Linked DNA regions of Homo sapiens: region 1 is linked to region 2. The links come from fine-mapping of genetic effects on gene expression. A gene starts in region 2. The other region holds a variant in brackets. All regions are shown on one strand. Distances are from middle to middle. Region 1 overlaps DLG4 (discs large MAGUK scaffold protein 4). Region 2 holds the start of ASGR2 (asialoglycoprotein receptor 2).

Region 1 (2,901 bases), 98 kb after region 2:
TCACCAGAGCCCCAGTTGCACAGAATGACCTGGAACTGAGGCTTGCACCCCCAAAACATAGGGGTGTGAGTCAAAGTGAATGATAAGAGGGGCGACCCACGGCGCCTGTCCACGAGAAGTTGCAACCCAGAGACCCCGCACCAAGCAGAAGGAAGAGCGACAGCGCTTGAAGCTTGCACCCTGATATTTGCGGGGGTCCGGGAAGGGGGAGCGGGCCGGAGCCCATACCGCGGCACGTACCACGCAGAGACACATGGAGGCGAATCTGTTCCGAGCCGACATGGAGAAGGGGAGGGGGACTGAGGGAAGGGGGTAGGTGGGATATCAAGGGTCCCGGGGGTTGGGGGAGGGGGAGGGGCAGAGGGGCGGGGGCTGCGGCGGCCGCGGCAACTGGAGGCTGCGGCGGGGGGGGGGGGGGGGTGACGGCGCCTGCGCAGTAAGGAAGAGCGTCACGTTGGGAGAGAGGGGTGAGGGGAGACCCTCTTAGCCACCAACTTCCCTGGTTCACGCTGTTTCTCTGTGAACTTCACTTTCCACAGTATACTTCTATTCCGACCCCTCTACAATTAAAGACAGACTTAAATTTACCAGTTTATCTCTCTAGTTCTCAGGGACCCCTTATTCCATCCCATCTAATCCCCCAACCCCAACATCGCGAGACCCCAAACCATTCCAAAACCTCACTGGACATCTCGTCACTACTGGCCTCCCAGAGTCCAGGGAAACAAACAGCACTTCTCTCACAAGAACCCCCAAGGGATCTACACTGCCTCTCCCACCAAACCCCCGCAAGATTGGTGCTGTGGATAGCATCTCCTCAGATTCCAAGGCATCTCCTACTCTAACCAGCATAGTTCTCCCCTGCAGTCCAGCCCCACCTGATAGGCAGCCCATGTTTCTTCAAGAGTTTAAGGAACCACAGAGCCTTGTTGGCCCCCCAAATTAATATATGCTAAATCATCCCTTTCTATATCACATCTATCTCCCAATCCACTAACAGGGATGTTGCAATTAGTGCAAATATTACTCTTGCTCTAATATAAACATCCAAATAACAAGTCCTCTAATTTGTTGGGGATCCCCTGTCCAAACCCCCGAATCTAATAAGATACTCATGACTTCCTAATATGCCAGTCTCCAAATCCACACCAGAACCCAATTTCAGGAAATATTTAATCTACTTTAAAGCAGACCCTCCAAATTAAATAGCAATCTCGTCAATTTTTTCCAAAACTCTTATAAAAAGAAATGTAGACGGGAAGATCGCTGGAGGCCAGGTGCCCAACACCAGCTTGGGCAACATAGTGAGATCCCATCTCTAAAAAAAAAAATTTTGGCCTGGCACGGTGGCTCACACCTGTAATCCCAGCACTTTGGGAGGCCGAGGCGGTTGGATCATGAGGTCAGGCGTTCCAGACCAGCCTGGCCAAGATGGTGAAACCCCATCTCTACTAAAACTACAAAAATTAGCCGGGCGCGGTGGCAGGCGCCTGTAATCCTAGCTACTAGGGAGGCTGAGGCAGGAGGATGGCTTGAATCTGGGCAGCAGAGATTGCAGTGAGCCGAGATCGTGCCACTGCACTCTAGCCTAGGCGACAGAGTGAGACTCGGTCTCAAAAATTAATAATTAATTAATTAAAAGTATTTTCCTTTTCCTTTTCTTTTCTTTCTTTC[TTTC/T]TTTTTTTTTTTTTTTTTTTTGAGACAGATTCTCGCTCTGTTGCTCATGCTGGAGTGCAATGGCGCGATCTCGGCTTACTGCAACATCCGGCTCCCGGGTTCGAGTGATTCTCCTACCTCAACCTCCCGGATATCTGGCATTACAGGCGCCCGCCACTACGCCCGGCTAATTTTTTTGTATTTTTAGTAGAGACGGGGTATCGCCATGTTGGCCAGGCTGGTCTCGAACTCGTGACCTCACATGATCCGCGCGCCTCGGGCTCCCAAAGTGCTGGGATTACAGGTGTGAGCCACCGCACCCGGCACCTCCTCTCCTTTTCTTTACCCCTGAGGTTCATAGATTACACCCTTTTCTGTCTGCCCAGAACATCCCCTCCACGATTCTGAATTCCAACTTTGTCGGAAGATTGCTCCCAAATATATCTTCTCCACACTCAGGCCTCAAAAAATACACACCAAAGATACGGCCGGCAATCTGCAATGACCCACAAATCGTCCAGAACACTCCCAACCGCCTCCTTCAGGTCTCTTCAGAGATTTCCATTTTCTCCCAAACAACTTAACCTGAAAGCCTCTCTTCCAAATATTCTCCCATTGAACGCCCACCCTTCCAGCTCTTAAAACCCAGTGAGGGGTCTCCTCAAATCGGCTGACTTCTATAAAATGCCCATACATGGTAGAAATGACGACTTCCCTAGAATCTCACCCAAGCGAGATTGACCCCGTTGATCGGCATCTGTTACATGCGCCCCCAAGATGACCCCCAATGTCCTAGTTTCATATCTGGTAGGAAGGCTTGGATCACCAGAGGATCCAAGGAGTCAGTGCGGAAGGGGCTGGACTCAAATTTCCTTCTAGAATAGAAAACCTGCAGGCCCTGCTTATCCACCAGTGGGCGCCATGGCCCATAAAGACCCTTCCCCATCCCCCATTTCCCTTTTCCCTCCATTTTCCGTTTCTCTGTTGCCTGGCAACGCAGCAATCAAGGACTTTGCCGTCGCCTAGCAACCGTCTCCTGGGAACACAGAGCTGAGGTAGGAGGGGTGCTCTGATGAAATCTGAACAGACCTCCATCTTAGGAAAATTGAGACGTCAGACTTCCCAACCCCCGGATTCTCCTTTCCAAAGACCCCCGCGCCCTGAAGTTACTTGGACAATAGCTCCTCAAACCCTGTCTCCTTTACGCACGGGGGGCCACGCCACGCCCATCCCAGGTCAGCCCCG
Region 2 (2,901 bases):
ACACAACACACAACATACACTCACACACAAGATACACACAACATATACTCACACAACATACACACACAACACACTCTCACACACAACATACCCTCTCACATACACGACATACACACACACAACATATGCACGCTCTCGCGCACATATACACACACACAACATTCACTCACACACACACACAGAGTCCCAGCTGAATCTGCATTCCTCATATGCACATACGTGCACACGCACATACGAGGCACATGTGTTCTTGGGTTGGGAGGAGAAGGGCAGGCAGTTATCTTCCAGATCTCCCCACACCTCTGGCACATGCCTTTCCTGGGGTCCTGGGGTAGACAGGAAGGTGAGGTGAGGGAACAAGCGGGGGTGTCGGGCCCTCCTCAGTCCCTGTTCACAGAGTGGGTGCGGCAGAGACCTCAAAGGGACAGAGCAATCATGAGCTGAGACAGAGGGGGAGCAAAGCCGCAGAAACTGCACACTTGCCTTTCAAAAATGGATTTCCTCTCCTGGGATTCAGCCTGCGAGTGCCTGGCCCCTCACCTTGATGGAAAGGATGGTCATTTTCCTCCGAGCTCAGCTGCTGGATATCTTGAAAGTCCTTGGCCATGATGGGGCCCGGGCTGGAGCTGGAGCTGGAGCTGGGCTGGGCTGGGCTGAGGTTGCTCTGAGGGCTGGGGCTGGGGCAGAGGTGCAGATTCACGTGGAGGTTGATGGTGGGATGGAACGCAGGGTCGGAGGGGTTCGGGGTGGTGGCCTGGGTAGGATCTGAGGTTGGCAGGGCGTTTGGGATGAGGTTTGAAATCCCGCTGGGTCCTTTCCCTTCTCAGGAGACCGCTTGGGCCTTGACCTGGCCAGGAGACCCCTCCCCACGCTCATGGACCCGACCACCCACAGCTTCCCATGGGGTCCTCCCCATCCCTGAACCAAGGCCTCCTTGTTCCCAAGCATCCTCGTCCCAGTTGCCTCCCCAGCCTCAGTTACCTGTGAAAGGTGTGGAGAGCGGACACCTGGCTCCCGCAGGCAACCCTGGCCTTGGCCAAGGAGGGGTTAAAGCCAGGAGAACTGGGGCAGGTGGAGCTCACAGGGGAGAGGAGAGTGGAGGAGGGGCTGGTCCGGGCAAGGCCTGCACTGGAGGGTCTGAGTGTCCAAGCTCTAACCTGGCACCTCCTGGCCTGGGACTTTGGACAGTAAACAGAAGAGGAAACAGAGCTGTAACTCATTTGTGGGGTGGGGGCAGGGGACGGGGCTATCTCTGTTCTTATTCCCAGAGAGGGGGGTCCCCTGGGCTGCGCTCAACTCCACACGCCACTCACCCCACTCATTGCACCATTTGGAAGGGGTGCCAGGCCAGGAGGGGCTGGGGTGCAGTTTGCCGTTTCCCTCTCTCCCTCCCCCTCTCACTTCCTGCCTCCGAATTTACCAGAACTGTGGGTGTCTCCAAATATCCCTGACCAGGATCACAGCGACCAGTTCTCTACTCTTGCCCAATCCGGCATCTGAACCACAGACCCCAGCTTCCTGTGGGCTCGGCCACCAGACTCTCAGCTCTGGCCCAACTCGCTTCACTCTCCTGGAGAGTAAAGCCTCTCAAATCCAGAAGCTTCAGCAGGAGGAGGAAGGGGCTTTGCAGAAAAACAGCTCTCCTCGCAGGAGGAATCCAACCTCAGAGAGCCCCGTCCGGCCCAGACCCTGCCCCAGCCCAGGCAACACAAACACTGTCCTCAGGCCCAGCCACTGCCCTAAATTCTCCAAGGTGTTTCTTCATTTATCACAGCACAACACCCCCACGAGGCAGGACTTCTGTTACTCCCATTTCACAGGGTTCGGAAGCGGAGCCTCGGAGAGATGAGGCAACTTGCTCTAGGTGGTGGCCCAGGTGAGTAGAGAAACTGGCAAAGCAAAATGGAGTAAAGAGGGGAAAATAACATCATAACAAAAGGTCTGGCCGGGCACGGTGGCTCACGCCTGTAATCCCAGCATTTTGGGAAGCCGACGTGGGTGGATCACCTGAGGTCAGGAGTTCGAGACCAGCCTGGCCAACATGGTGAAACTCTGTCTCTACTAAAATACAAAAATTAGCCGGGCGTGGTGGCAGGGGCCTGTAATCCCAGCTACTCAGGACGCTGAGGCAGGAGAATCGATTGAACCTGGGAGGCGGAGGTTGCATTAGCCAAGATTGCGCCATTGCACTCCAGCCTGGGCAACAAGAGAGAAACTCCATCTCAAAGAAAAAAAAAAGAAAGAAAGAAAAAGAAAAGAAAAGGTCTTCATGGTCCTACGAGGAAGACTGGCTTCCATGAAGCAAGGAACGTGGCTGACTGTCTACACTTGCGCTAACAATAGCTCGGGAAAGAAAACACAGTTTTTGTGCATGATTTTCTGACCCTCACCAAACTTGGGCGGATGGCTACGGGCAGGGTTTCTTATAAAGCTGCTCGTTTCCCCGGGTGCCGAAAAGGAATTCAAACAGAGGCCTTTTCTGTTCTTGTAACTTGCTGACCCACATGGGAAGTAGCCACCCCCCCAGTACCCTGACATTCCCACCCAGCCACCAGGCAGCAGCAGCCGCTGGGCTCTCTGACTGCAGCCCACAGCGAGAGACGAATTTCATGCTGTGATCCAGAACATACACACAAGCACCCGCACACACAGGTGCATTTGTATGTGTTACTTTCTCCTGGATCCCCAGTGCCTGCCACACAGTAGCTGCTCAACAAGTATCTACTGAGTGAGTGAGTGAATAGAATAATGCGTTTGGAAATACACGGTTGACACTAAAGTTTGATGGGACAATGCTCACCTTACTACGTGCCTTCTGTTGAGTTTCCCAGTCCATTAATGGGTCACAACTCAAAGTCTGAACAACACTGCTGTGAAGCCCCCATCTTAAGGGGCATGTGG

The links. PIP is the estimated chance that this variant, and not a neighbour inherited with it, causes the effect.
Region 1: its variant is the best candidate, but not a certain one, in a credible set for the expression of ASGR2 in monocytes (BLUEPRINT, PIP 0.89).

Annotation. Positions count from the first base shown.
Region 1 is chr17:7,211,418-7,214,318 of GRCh38, forward strand. All of the region lies in intron 1 of DLG4 (discs large MAGUK scaffold protein 4), which reads right to left. Among named protein-coding and RNA genes, the nearest start is that of DLG4, 4.8 kb to the right of the region's middle. RefSeq lists enhancers at 1-126, 127-641, 2,893-2,901. The variant TTTC/T (reference allele first, on the strand shown) is at 1,675.
Region 2 is chr17:7,113,634-7,116,534 of GRCh38, forward strand. ASGR2 (asialoglycoprotein receptor 2) reads right to left here and starts at 1,189. Exons shown (of 9, transcript NM_001201352.2): 1 at 982-1,189; 2 at 484-677. The coding sequence starts at 607. RefSeq lists an enhancer at 1,341-2,127.